Homo sapiens: one gene and its partners. The protein of the gene in region 1 purifies or fractionates together with the protein of each later gene. This does not show direct contact. Each region holds a gene or a part of one and is shown in the gene's direction. Other genes may lie near its edges.

Evidence for each region.
Region 2: the proteins of TNS3 (region 1) and WRAP73 purify together in Homo sapiens (co-immunoprecipitation; one large-scale study listed by IntAct). This does not show direct contact.
Region 3: the proteins of TNS3 (region 1) and FGL1 purify together in Homo sapiens (co-immunoprecipitation; one large-scale study listed by IntAct). This does not show direct contact.
Region 4: the proteins of TNS3 (region 1) and UMPS purify together in Homo sapiens (affinity purification with mass spectrometry, with the first as the bait; one large-scale study listed by BioGRID). This does not show direct contact.

The regions. Positions count from the first base shown.
Region 1 is NC_000007.14:47,362,112-47,365,611, reverse strand, and holds part of TNS3 (tensin-3), read left to right. Parts: intron 1-3,500. UniProt on the Homo sapiens protein: May act as a protein phosphatase and/or a lipid phosphatase. Involved in the dissociation of the integrin-tensin-actin complex. EGF activates TNS4 and down-regulates TNS3 which results in capping the tail of ITGB1.
Region 2 is NC_000001.11:3,636,604-3,640,103, reverse strand, and holds part of WRAP73 (WD repeat-containing protein WRAP73), read left to right. Parts: intron 1-1,281; coding exon 1,282-1,354; intron 1,355-3,005; coding exon 3,006-3,109; intron 3,110-3,500.
Region 3 is NC_000008.11:17,871,525-17,875,024, reverse strand, and holds part of FGL1 (fibrinogen-like protein 1 precursor), read left to right. Parts: intron 1-503; coding exon 504-663; intron 664-908; coding exon 909-1,006; intron 1,007-3,500. UniProt on the Homo sapiens protein: Immune suppressive molecule that inhibits antigen-specific T-cell activation by acting as a major ligand of LAG3. Responsible for LAG3 T-cell inhibitory function. Binds LAG3 independently from MHC class II (MHC-II).
Region 4 is NC_000003.12:124,736,952-124,740,451, forward strand, and holds part of UMPS (uridine 5'-monophosphate synthase), read left to right. Parts: intron 1-616; coding exon 617-1,288; exon of another isoform or gene 1,289-1,492; intron 1,493-3,072; coding exon 3,073-3,248; intron 3,249-3,500. UniProt on the Homo sapiens protein: Bifunctional enzyme catalyzing the last two steps of de novo pyrimidine biosynthesis, orotate phosphoribosyltransferase (OPRT), which converts orotate to orotidine-5'-monophosphate (OMP), and orotidine-5'-monophosphate decarboxylase (ODC), the terminal enzymatic reaction that decarboxylates OMP to uridine monophosphate (UMP).

The DNA.
Region 1 (3,500 bases):
TTTTGTATTTTTAGTAGAGATGGAGTTTCACCATGTTAGCCAAGAAGGTCTCGATCTCCTGACCTTGTGATCCGCCCCCCTCGGCTTCCCAAAGTGCTGGGATTACAGGCATGAGCCGTTGCTCCCAGCCAAACTCGTTACTTTGAGAACACTTTTTTTTTTTTTTTGAGATGGAGTCTTGCTCTGTCGCCCAGGCTGGAGTGCAGTGGCACAATCTTGGCTCACTGCAACCTCCGCCTCCTGGGTTCAAATGATTCTCTTGGCTCAGCCTCCCGAGTAGCTGGGACTACAGGCGTGCACCTCCATGCCTGGTTAATTTTTGTATTTTTAGTAGAGATGGGGTTTCACCATATTGGCCAAGGTGGTCTTGAACTCCCGACCTCACGATCTGCCCACCTTGGCCTCCCAAAGTGCTGGGATTACAGGCATGAGCCACCGCGCCCAGCCCAATAACACATTTTGATTTTGATTTTAGATACTCTTTAATGCGTTTTATTATAAAAGTTATTTAATTATCATTTTGAAGTCTAAGGACTTTCATATCTCAACAACAGACCAGTAAAATTCAGTGCATATTTGGGTATTGACAATACAAATTTAAAGTATTTATTAATCTATTCATATTTGACAGGCATCTGGGGCCATTGGTCCATTTTTTTCATAGCTTCAGAACTAAAAAGATGTCAGAAGATTAGGTATAAGCAAAACTGGTTACCAGTCTCCCCAGAGCTTTTTAAAATTGGGAAGTGACCTTCTTGTAGGAACCCTGCCACACATGAGCAACTGTCCATGAGCAGTGATGAATGGACACTGAAGGGTTAGCCGCAGCATTGGAAACAGGGCAGAGTGAGCCATGCCCTTCCTGGGAGCTCCGCTTCCTCTTCCAGGACGTGCCTCTTGTGCTAGGTAAGCACCAAGCTGGGAGATGGAGCAAGCCTTGAGACTTGCACTTCATTTAGTGTCAAAAGCCTGCACAGTGTAGAGGTGGTCTCTGAACAGCCTGCATGGCAGGCTTTTGGATCTCAGTCCAAGACTTTCTGACCTGATAGAAATCCCATTAAAAGATGCTTACTGGGCCGAGGCAGGCAGATCACCTGAGGTCAGGAGTTCAAGACCAGCCTGGCCAACATGGCAAAACCCTGTCTCTACAAAGTTACAAAAATTGGTCAGGCATGGTGGTGCATGCCTGTAATTCCAGCTTCTTGGGAGGCTGAGGCAGGAGAATCACTTGAACCCAGGAGGCAGAGATTGCAGTGAACTGAGACCGTGCACTGCACTCCAGCCTGGGTGACAGAGCAAGCACTCTGGCCCAAAAAAAAAAAAAAAAAAAAAAATTATTGCTTACTTCTGTAGCTCTCAGGCACTGCAGCTAAGCAAGGAAGGAATTGTTTCTTCCCTCACTAGCAGGTATAGAAAACACTGGAACTCTTTTGATTTTAAAATTTAAATTTCAGTATTGACATTTCTCAATAGGAAATGGCTACTTTGGCAAGCGGCAGAAAACAAAAATTACTAGATCCTAGCAGGGACACGCGTACAAGTGTGGTAGCAAAGCAGCTAGTTCCGAGTCCCTGGGACATCGTCAGAAGGTTGGGGATGCTGCTGGAGTGCCTGCACTTTGAAGGTGTCCTAGATCCCTCAATCCATATCCGTCTCCTCAGCCAGCCAAAGGAGACCAGGGCTGTTGAGCTGGAGCCCTCCTCTTTCAGCTTAGATCCATGTGTGAATAGGAAGGATTCTGGCACGTCCAAAAGGCTCATGACATGCCCAGAATGGTACCATCACCTAACCCTGCAAGGGGCATCATTTCCACATCTGTGTGCATGAGGTTCAGCCCCATAGATAGTGTGGCATTGCCTGACTGACTGGAGACTACCTTGAGTCTCGCTCACAAGGGGAAACCATAGACTGGAAGTTCTGAGAGCACTATGTCTACATGAGCCCCTTCTTGCTGGCCTGCCTTCCATCTCATCCCTGGACACAAACTGCTACACAACTTTCTTAATTCTGACTGTGGATGAAGGTTTGTCACAGAGACCTCAGCATCCTGAAGTTACCAGAATCTTTCACTATTTGCAGATTATGTCCTCATTATGAGAAAGACCACCACTTGTGGTAGAGAGTTGGGAATAGCATTGCCCTGTGCTCCTCCGGGGGACTTCTGTGCATCCTGCATTATTTATGAGATGAAAATTATATGTGAAGGCTAAGTATTTCCTGAGAAAGTCTTTCATACCAGCACCATAATAATAATAGTGGTGCTGCTGCTGATGGTGGTGATGATCACAGTGATGGTGATGGTGATGATGATGGTGATGGTGATGATGGTAATGACTGTGATGATATTGATGGTGGTGATGGATATGGTGGTGGTGTTGATTGTAATGATGGTGATGTTGATGGTGGTGATGATGTTGATGTTGATGGTGATGACCCTTATGATGGTGATGACTGATGATGATGATGGTGATGATGACAGTGATGATGGTGATGATGATGATGATGATGATGGTGATGACTGTGATATTGATGGTGGTGATGGTGGATGATGACGGTGATGGTGGTGATGATGTTGATGGTGATGGTGATGACCCTGATGATGGTGATGACTGTGATGATGTTGGTGATGGTGATGGTAAATGACTCTGATGATGGTGGTGATGTTGATGGTGGTGATGATGTTAATGGTGGTAATGGTGATGTTGATGGTGGTGATGGTGATGGTGATGACTGTGATGATGTTGATGGTGGTAATGGTGATGGTGATGATGACAGTGATGATGGTTATGACTGTGATGATGGTGATGATGCTGATGGTGGTGATGATGCTTTGGTGATAGTGATGATGACGGTGATGACTGTGATGATAGTGATGATGTTTATGGTGGTGTTAGTGATGGTGATGTTGATGATGTTGGTAATAGTAAGAACTGTTACTCTGAGTGCCTACACTGTTTTAGGTACCTTCATTTCACCAGGACACGTAACAGAGCTCTCGTCTCTCTGACTCTGCACCCCATGGCTATGTCCTAATTCCACTAAACTCACACTCTTACACCAGCCAGTAAACCTGTTGAGGGAAGTGCTCATTATTTTTTTTCCCTGGCATGCAGGAAGAGTTCGACATATGTTTGCAAATACAGGGGTCTGGGACAGGCGGAACTGCAAATGATCCTTTTGAGACCTGAACTACTCTGCTGAATGGGCACTGAGGGGAGATTTATCGCTGGACAGTGTAGAGTAGCCCTGCCCACCTACAAGATCAGAGAGAGGCCCTCCAGAGGTGGGGTATCACAAAGCTCTGGTGGCTGAGACCTGGGTGCTCTGTGTGCCAGTGAGCACAGTTTTGTATCCTTCTTGTAGAATGGGTGAGATTCAGGGAGTTGGTTTGGGGACATTTTACTCCCCACAAGTGCCTGCCAGCCATGAGGCCCTGCTCCCTCACTCTGGTCTGACTTCTGCTGCCACTGGTGTTTTGTGGAAGAGCCCCTGGGTGCTGC
Region 2 (3,500 bases), on another chromosome or scaffold:
CAGGACTTCTCTCCTGAACGCTGTATATGTTGTTTGGAGAAACAATTACAGACATCAGATTTTCTTTTCTGTTGTAAGAAGAGATGATGCGTAGACATTTAAATTAAATCATTTGTTAATATCCTATACTGACAACCTGGCAGCGTTTGCAGGAGTGACACTGTGGACATGCTGTGCCCCACACGCTGCGGCCCCACTTACGCTGCTGGAGACGGTCCCCCACCCCGGGCCTCATCCTCAGCGAGGACCCCTGCCTGACACACACGGAGCTGGCAGTCAGCACCCCACCCCGCATGGAGCTGCGCAGCCCTGTGTCCCCACACACGGAGCTGGCAGTCAGCACCCCACCCCACATGGAGCTGCGCAGCCCTGTGTCCCCACACACGGAGCTGGCAGTCAGCACCCCACCCCGCACCTTGTGTCCCCGCACCTCGGCCATATTTCAGTTAACTACCAGATTCATCAGTGGGCCGGGGATGTGGGAAGCAAGATGATTCCCTGGTAGGCTCCACGGGGTCTCAGTGGGAAATGCAGGTGGAGGGACACAGCAGCCCTGGAAGTCCCGCGGCGCTGCCACGGGGAGGGCTGGACCACCCACTGCGGTGCCTCTCCCTCAGCAGGCACGCCCTCGTCGGCCTGGTTAGAAAATCATCTTTTGGCCTCACTGTGCCAGCCTAGTCAGCTCTCAGCTCCCTGAGTCAGGGAAAGGGGTGGAAAAGTGGACAGTCCAGCAGCGCATGTTCTAGAACCCTCTGCAGATGCAGCCAGGCCAGCGAGCACACGCAGGAGGCAGACGGACACCTTCTTGGGTGTTGAGTGGCTGCTCCTGCCTCAGGGCTGCAGATGCAGGCTCACAGCCCCCTGGTGAGTCCCGGAGTGGCTGCATCCAATCTCCAGATCCTCTGTCTTCCCATAAAGGAGACTGAACCCGTGGTGGTTTCTAGATCAAGATTTTTCTCTGAGTAACTCAGGGTTATTATAACATGCAACCTATGGTCACTTTGAAAAAGCTAATGAAAAAGCACTTGGATTTAACTTTGTGTCACTCAATTTTGGTATAAAACAACAACAACAGAAAACCAAGAACACCAAATTTACCGTAACCACAGTAAAATACGCATTTGAATATTCCGGTAGGAGGGCAGGCATCCCCCAGGTCCTGATAGATCCACTCCAGCAGTCAGGCCTGTGCTTGGGGACGCGTGGGCGGGTTGAGGATTGAGACGGTCTCTGATGATGCTAAAGAAGTGTTTCCTTTCTCTTTCCCCTTTCCCCCAACAGCTGCGGATAACCGTCTGGTCCTTGTGCACAAAATCCGTGTCTTACATCAAATACCCGAAAGCTTGTCTGCAGGGTGAGTCGATCGGAGCCACGCAAAAGCCATTTCTTTGCAGCTGTTTGACTTTTTTGTCACGGGAAGTTTCAAAGAGGCAGAAGTAGCTTCAGCAGCATATCAACACATAGCCAACCCCCTTGGGCTCTTTTAAAGGAGACCTTAGGTCTCCTCATACTTCATCTGTAAATATTTCCATATGTGTCTCAAAAAGGCAAGAGTCCCCTTTTAAAACATGACCACAGTGACTCAAGACAACGTGGCCTAAGACATGGAAGAACGGTGGCGTTGATGCCGGTCCCCTTGACCTTGGCGGCAGAGCTGGGCGTTCAGACCCCTTCCAGCCGATGCCTGTTGAGAGGCCCACCTCAGGCATCCAGTTCTGAGCTTTCTCTCTTCTGTGGACTAAATATGATGTCTGCGAAAGGGGGAGGTCTTGCCTGTCATCTCTGGGCATCCCAGAGGGATATGTGACCAGTGTCCCTTCCTTGTGGAAGCCTGTGAGCCATCTGGAAGAAAGGGGGCCGGCGCAGGGTGGCCCACTGCCAGCGCGTCTAACTGGACCGCGCAGAGCTAGTGGGAGGTGCCACTCCTGAGTCCTGGACGACACCGCACTGTCTTTTTGCGGAATGAAACATACACAGTTGGAATGATGCTTTCATTTTTCTCTGTTGCTGCCAGCGGTTTGGAAATTGCATTTGAATGCAATGCAGTCACACTCTTATTCTTATAGTTGGAATATTAGCGTCCCTCCAGATGAGATACATATCTCTTGATAGGAGTGGACACCGTGGTTTCGTCATTTGAGGTATTCTTTTCACTCAGGAATGATGAATTCTGGCCTAGGGCTTTTTAAGCTAATACAGAACTGGAAAATAAGAGTTTAACATTTTCAACTAAAGTTTCTTCCACATTTTCATCTTATTATTACTTTTTTGAGACAGGGTCTTGCTCTGTCACCCAGGCTGGAGTGCAGTGACACGATCACAGCTCAGTGCAGCCTCGACCTCCTGGGCTTAAGTGATCCTCTCACCTCAGCCTCCTGAGTAGCTGGGACTACAGGCACACACCATCACAGCCGGCTGATATTTTGTAGAGATGGGGTTTCACCAAGTTGTCTGGGCTCCTTTCAAATTCCTAGGCTCAAGCGATTCACCTGCTTCAGCCTCCCAAAGTGCCGGGATTACAGGCGTGAGCCACCATGCCTGGCCACACATTTTCATCTTCAGTTTACTTCTTCCAAATAATTAAATTCAAAGGTAAAATAAATATGGTAGGAACCAGCTGCCTTTTGCCTAGCTGGAGATAGCCCTGGGTGTCCCGCAGCTTAGACATGGGGGGACTCGAAGGCCTGTGTTTCTCACTCATATTTGTGATTAATCAGAGGTCACATCACTTGGTATTTTTGACAGAGCCTTGCAAACCGGCTCCTGTGTGTGTACAGCTTCCCCCAGCACACACTGCGTTGTGAGGGTGAAGGCACCGTGCCTTGGGTTTCTCCTCTGCGCTAGAATGTTCTTGTCTGTCTGAGGAGCAGTGCTCGGCATTGTGCCATTTCCCTTCTTTTCACCTCTGCTTTCTTTTCCTCCTCCTTCCTTGTGAATTACTACTGTGGTTTCTCTTGCTTGATTTTGTGGCCGCTTGATTTCAGTGCATTTGCCTCTTCCCACAGGAATCACCTTCACCAGGGACGGCCGCTACATGGCGCTGGCAGAACGGCGCGACTGCAAAGATTACGTGAGCATCTTCGTCTGCAGTGATTGGCAGCTCCTGCGGGTAAGGCGTCCCCCAGACTGGAATAAAGTTGTCCTGCTGACTGTGGAGGGATCGAGTGAAGTAGATCCTTCCAGATTCCAGGGGATCTTTGGTAGGATATGGAGCAAGGTGATGTTGTATTAACAAAGGGCAGGTGCGCTGCGAATCACTTCCAGTGGCACCCGGTTGTGTGTTCAGGAGACTTGGTGAAAAGGACGCGTGCCCAGGTGTTTTAAAAGTGAATATGCTGTCACATTTGAGCCCTTTTCCTTGTCCTGTGTGATGGTGTTTGCGCATGTGTGTGCCACGTCGGGAGTTGGGGGGACGTGGAAGTTCACCTTGACTGAGGGCCTGCATTAGGCAGGGCGCTCTGCCAGGTGCCCAGGCACAGAGGGCACTGCCCCCACAGCAG
Region 3 (3,500 bases), on another chromosome or scaffold:
AAACTGTAAGTTCCACCTAAATATACTGTTATTAACAGACTACTCATAACTTGTTTTTTTTAAGATTGTTTTCTACAAAACTCAGAAATTAGAAACTAAGCTCACACCTGTAATCCCAGCCCTTTGGGAGTCTGTGGTGGGAGGATAGGATTGTTTGAAGCCAGGAGTTCGAGACCAGCCTGGGCAATATAGTGACACGCCCCCATTTCTTAAAAAAAATGTAAAAGAAAAAAGAAGAAAGAAACAAAAAACTAGATTCTTATTTCACTCCCCTTTTTTCCTCGATGATTATATCAAGGATTCAGGTGGCAAATTTTAGCAAAGGAAATAAAACTTTCCTAATATCCACTGGAAGATGTACAAGATGCAATTTTAAAACGCTGATTTCTATACCATGTGTTATCTGTCTCCAGTGATACTGAGTAGTCTCATTCAGAGGCTCCCTAAGGCGGGGGGAGAAAAAGACACATAATGAATGTTACATTACCTTGTTTTAAAAACAGATTGTTCAGAGATTTTCAATGATGGGTATAAGCTCAGTGGATTTTACAAAATCAAACCTCTCCAGAGCCCAGCAGAATTTTCTGTTTATTGTGACATGTCCGATGGAGGAGGATGGACTGTAATTCAGAGACGATCTGATGGCAGTGAAAACTTTAACAGGTGTGCTAATTATGATGTAAGACTTTATATGTAGCAGCAAATGTGAGATTTATAAGTCAAATATTTTGATCATATCCTGAAGCCTATTAATTAGACAGAATTTCAATCTCTCTAAAGAAGAATACTGAAAATGAATTAACTAATCAAGAAAATATTGGAGGTGGTGGTAGCAGGGGGTGGGTGGTGGTCGCTTTGGTACCACAAATGGAGTTTGCTCTAATCGGCTTCCACTTTACCTTTTTTAGAGGATGGAAAGACTATGAAAATGGCTTTGGAAATTTTGTCCAAAAACATGGTGAATATTGGCTGGGCAATAAAAATCTTCACTTCTTGACCACTCAAGGTAAGGTTTGAATGATGTCAGATTTATTTGAAATATAATAAAAACAACACTAAAATTTTTTTTTAACCAAATTATAGGCAATGGAACTAATTCAATAATTGCTATGATTTGCAGATGGCAGTGATAACTTTTGGGCAATAATCCCAAATGTAAAATGTGGCTGCCTAAAATTAGAAACAGAAAAAAAAGCTAGAATTGGGTTGCGGGGAATTGTTTTCACATATATATTTATGAGAAATATCTAAATATATTTATAGATATATATACATTCTATACATAGTATATATGTAGCTATATATAGATATATAGAATATAAGTCGCTATATGTATCTATAGATATATATAGAATATATATATATTCTACTTCTGAAAAGGATATATAATGTCATAATTATTCCTTTTTGATGCCTTGAGTTCCTGGAGATTATATATGCTGTATCAGTTACCTAATGTCACAATAATAACGTGTAACAATCCTCTTCCAAAGCTTAGTGGCTTAAAATCAACAACCATTTATTACTTCTCACAAATCTGCAGGTTGGCTGGGTGATTTTGCTGATCAGGGCTGGGCTCTGCTGATCATGGCTGGGCTTGCTTATGAGTCTGCCATCAACTTCCTCACTGAAGTTGCTGCTCTGGGATGGAAGGATTCAACCTGGCTCCATAGGGTCTCTCATCTTCCAGCTAGCTAGCCTGGACTTGTTTTTGTAGCACAGGCAGGGTTCCACAAAAAAGAGTGGATGTATATAAGTCTCTTGAGATCTAGGCCCAGAATTGGCATGGAGTCATTTTTCTTCTATTGGTGAAAGCAAATCACAGGAGCAGCTCAGACTTTTTTTTAAAAGGAAGTAAACAATAGGAGGAGCTATGAAGACATATTATGAGAGAGAGGTGAACAATTGGGCAATTGGTGCTATTTTTCCAATAAAACACTATAATATATGAAATGTCCATGTTTCCACATACATCTCATCTTTAATGCTGAAATTTTTTCAAAGCTGCAACCAATTTGAAAGAAGTTTCAACCTACCACCTGTATCCTACATTAACATTTTACTTTGCTTGTTTTTGTTACGTATCTATCCGTTTGCCCATTACTCAATCCGTCCATCAATCCATCTTTTCTGTATATATATTTCAAAGTAAATAGCAGACATCTGGATGTCTCCCTATATACTTTTAAATTCTTATCTTTAGAGTTTAATATTTGTCTAAAATATCATTGTTTTGATAACGACTTTTCCCAGCTTCTATCTCCCATGTTCTTTTGCTCCAATCCATTGTCTTCCCTACCTCTGTTGTAGTCTGAGATTATCATCAGTCCCACTCAAGTCTGATCCTGAATCCTTCATAAAAGGCAACTGTAATGCCCAAAAAAGCATGCTAAGTTACACTGCAATTGCATTAAAAATAAACAGCTGGGCATGGTGGCTCATGCCTGTAATCCCAGCACTTTGGGATGCTGAGGTGGGTGGACCCCTTGGGGCCAGGATTTCGAGACCAGCCTGGCCAACATGGTGAAACCCCATCTCTACTAAAAATACAAAAATTAGCCAGGCATGGTGGCACAGCACTGTAATCCCAGCCACTTGGGAGGCTGAGGCAGGAGAATTGCTTGAACCCAAGAGGCGGAGGTTGCAGTGAGCCAAGATTGCGCCAATCCACTCCAGCCTGGGTGACAGAGCAAGACTCTGTCTCAAATAATAATAATAATAAAGTAATTAAGATAAAACAAAAGTTCCTTTGTTCCATCCAAGTTCTGGAAAGCTATTGGTGTTTCTATATTTATAGTAGTAGGCTTATGGTTATAAAGTTCTTTGAGACACTAGAATGATAAACATTAGACAGGATGAGTAATCCTAGAAACCTTATACTTTCTTTGTATGTCCTTCTTATGATCAGTGCTCTCTAAATTTACATAACGCTTCCTTTCCTTCAACATATCTATTATTCTAGTTTTAAGTGTTTTATGCCAGATATATAAAATTTGCCATACCAACTTCTGTTTCATTTGCACATTGATATTTATCTGGTTTCTTATTGAAACTATGAAAACCCCAGAGCAGTAACCCTTGGCTCTTTCTAAATATATGAAATTCAAACGTATTATTTTTTAAGTTATTATGATGTACATATTTTCCCAGAGGAACTTTGCCAACAAACCTGTTCCTTTTCATATATCAACTTGGTACTCAGGCTGGCTAATCTCGTTGGAGAAAAAACGTGTTTTTCAGTTCCTGGGCCCCCACCCACGTATCCCATCAATCCAGACAATAGCCAGTGTTTTTGTCTCTGCATTCTTTAATTATGAGAGCATTACGGCTAATGAATTAATGAATTACCTCTGAGAATAGCTTTATCCCCACTACATAAATCTCAACTAGAAGTAGTGGCAATAAAATTGATTTAGAAATGGTAAATATAATTTGTTTACTTATTGAACAAAGAGACATTTCAATGTTAGCCAAAAAATTGAGTCTTTATGTCTCTGTTA
Region 4 (3,500 bases), on another chromosome or scaffold:
TTTTCCTTCTGAATTTGTGTCTTCAAAAAGTCAATTATTTGGCTGATCTTGAATAGTGAACTTAAAATACTTTGATGGAAAAAGGAATTATTTCATTCATGATACTGGATTATTCTGTTTCATAACTTTCCTTGATCTAGGTGATCTTGCTGTAAGAAACTCTGTATTTAGGCTGGACGTGGTGGCTCACACCTATAATCCTAGCATTTTGGGAGGCTGAGGCGGGAGGATCACTTGAGCTCAGGAGTTCAAGACCAGCCTAGACAACATAGTGAGACCTCATCTCTATGATAAAACAGATTTTTTTAAAGTAAAAAAAAAACCTCTCTATTTGAAAATTTGATCATAAAACACATTAAGCAGTGTTTATAATGTGAAATAATTTACTTGATTTACTATAAATATACTGTATGTGTAACTGGCAAGTTTGGTATACAGAGTTGGCTTTATACATAAATATACTGTATGTGCAACTAGCAAGTTTGGTATACAGAATTGGTATACACATATACTGTATGTGTAACTGGCAAGTTTTGTATACAGAGTGTGTGTACGTATATACGCACATATACATACATATTTAAATTTGGAATCAGCAAAATTTTTTCTTTTCTAGGAACTAAGCGTCTTGTAGAAGGAACTATTAATCCAGGAGAAACCTGTTTAATCATTGAAGATGTTGTCACCAGTGGATCTAGTGTTTTGGAAACTGTTGAGGTTCTTCAGAAGGAGGGCTTGAAGGTCACTGATGCCATAGTGCTGTTGGACAGAGAGCAGGGAGGCAAGGACAAGTTGCAGGCGCACGGGATCCGCCTCCACTCAGTGTGTACATTGTCCAAAATGCTGGAGATTCTCGAGCAGCAGAAAAAAGTTGATGCTGAGACAGTTGGGAGAGTGAAGAGGTTTATTCAGGAGAATGTCTTTGTGGCAGCGAATCATAATGGTTCTCCCCTTTCTATAAAGGAAGCACCCAAAGAACTCAGCTTCGGTGCACGTGCAGAGCTGCCCAGGATCCACCCAGTTGCATCGAAGCTTCTCAGGCTTATGCAAAAGAAGGAGACCAATCTGTGTCTATCTGCTGATGTTTCACTGGCCAGAGAGCTGTTGCAGCTAGCAGATGCTTTAGGACCTAGTATCTGCATGCTGAAGACTCATGTAGATATTTTGAATGATTTTACTCTGGATGTGATGAAGGAGTTGATAACTCTGGCAAAATGCCATGAGTTCTTGATATTTGAAGACCGGAAGTTTGCAGATATAGGAAACACAGTGAAAAAGCAGTATGAAGGTAAGTGTATTATTCAGGAATCTGCAAGAATCAGAAATCCAGCTTAAACTGAAGAAGAAAAAGGAAATGCTCATGTCATTGAAAGTCCATTCATAGAGCAGGCTGTCAAGCGTGGTTGGATCCAGGAGCTCAAGTGATATCTTCATGACTTGCTTTCTCTCCATCTCTCAGCTCTGCTTTCTTCTCTGTTGACTTCTTTCTCAGGTAGGCATACTCTGCATGCTCACCCCAAACCAATCACTCTAGCTTGGGATGTAGAATACCTTCATTAACTAGCCTGGGCAATTTGCTCTGCAACTGTGAGGTTGTTAACTCTGTATGACCTTCTTGAAATAAGAACCAGTCAGGGATAATTTCCTTAAAGAAAATGGATGTGCTAGTACCAGAAGAAGGGTATGTGCCTGGGCAAGCAAATTTGACAGATGTCCTTGGCAGAATATGATGTTTTGAATGAAAATTCCACATAAAGGAAACAATGAAAAAGAAATATAAAATGGTAAGATTTATTTGTAGCAGAAAAAGTTCTATTGATAAACATTATTTAAAGATTTTTCTTTTATCAAATAGGGACTCAAAGTAGTGCATGTGTTGGTTGAGAAAAATGCTTAGTTCTACTGCCTATTCTATGCAAATTTCTGTCTATGTTTTTACAACTGTGTGATCAGACTATATTTAATGCATTTTTCACTTAACCTGGTAACAGATATTTGGTTGTGTCATATAACATTTTTTGTAGGCATCTTTGAGGTAACTTTTCTTTAATGTATGCATGTTCATAAGCTATTTCTTTAAAATAGATTTGTCTTTAAGTGACTTCTTCATGTGCTTAAGATGTCCTGCCCTCATCACATTGCCTAGCTTACTTTAGCTGATTGACTGACATAAGAGTTTTATACAAACTTTCTTCAGCTCTGCATAGAGTTTTTTCGAAAATCAGGCTTGTTACTGTCCGCTTTTAAAAGGAATATAGTTGCCTATTGAAATTAGATAGCTAAGGAGATCTAAGGAACACGTAGAAATATTGAGCGATAGTAAAGCTGCTGAGAGACCCCTGCAGAGTGAAAACTTGTCATCTTCAAGAAGAATTTTATTTTTATTATTATTTTTTTTGAGATGGGGTCTTGCTCTGTCGCCCAGGCTGGAGTGCAGTGGTGCAATCTTGACTCACTGCAACCTCCACCTCCTGGGCTCAAGTGATCCTCCCACCTCAGCCTCCCAAGTAGCTGGGACCACAGGCATGCGCCACCACACCTAGCTAATTTTTTTGTATTTTTGGTAGAGATGGAGTTTTGCCATGTTGCCCAGGCTGGTCTCGAACTCCTAAACTCAAGCAATCTGCCCACCTCAGCCTCCCAAAGTACTGGGATTACAAGCATGAGCCACCATGCCCAGCTTCAAGAGGAATTTTTAAATGTTATCCTTGACATCAATAAATGTTTATCTTCACTGGAGTCCCTTTCTAATAGCATGAGCTTTATTTGTGGTCATGAGCTTCAGCCTTCAAGGAAAAAGAGTCCTGTTAGTGTTCCAGATAAGCCAAGTGCAGACCTTGAAAGTTTTTTCTCATTGTGATCTCTCACCCAGCTACTTACCTGAATAACAGATACAGTTTTCACAGATGGAACCATGGGTCTGCTGATAATCACTAAAGTTCCTGAAGAGTTTTGATTCTCTCATTAACATGTTACTGGGAGATTATTTCATATTGTAGTTGGTTGGTTGGACAAGACGTTAGAGGTTTTGTTTGAAAATCAGCAAATATCTTTTTTCCCCCTTCTTCTTAGGAGGTATCTTTAAAATAGCTTCCTGGGCAGATCTAGTAAATGCTCACGTGGTGCCAGGCTCAGGAGTTGTGAAAGGCCTGCAAGAAGTGGGCCTGCCTTTGCATCGGGGGTGCCTCCTTATTGCGGAAATGAGCTCCACCGGCTCCCTGGCCACTGGGGACTACACTAGAGCAGCGGTAAGTGGTGGGGGGACTGGGTGAGAGGGGGCAGGGGCTGCTATGCTGCATGCTGCAAGAAGATATCTCCTAATCTGGCGTTTCTGGAACCTCTGCCAAAAAAAAAATCCAGCTCTTGTTAGTGTGACAGTATATTAATACTAGTTGGATAGAATTCCTTGATAGTTAATAGCATTTTATATCATGTAGTGGACACTTCAGGAATTTGAATTATACTCCAAGAGAAACTTTGAGACCCAGATAGTTAGTCAA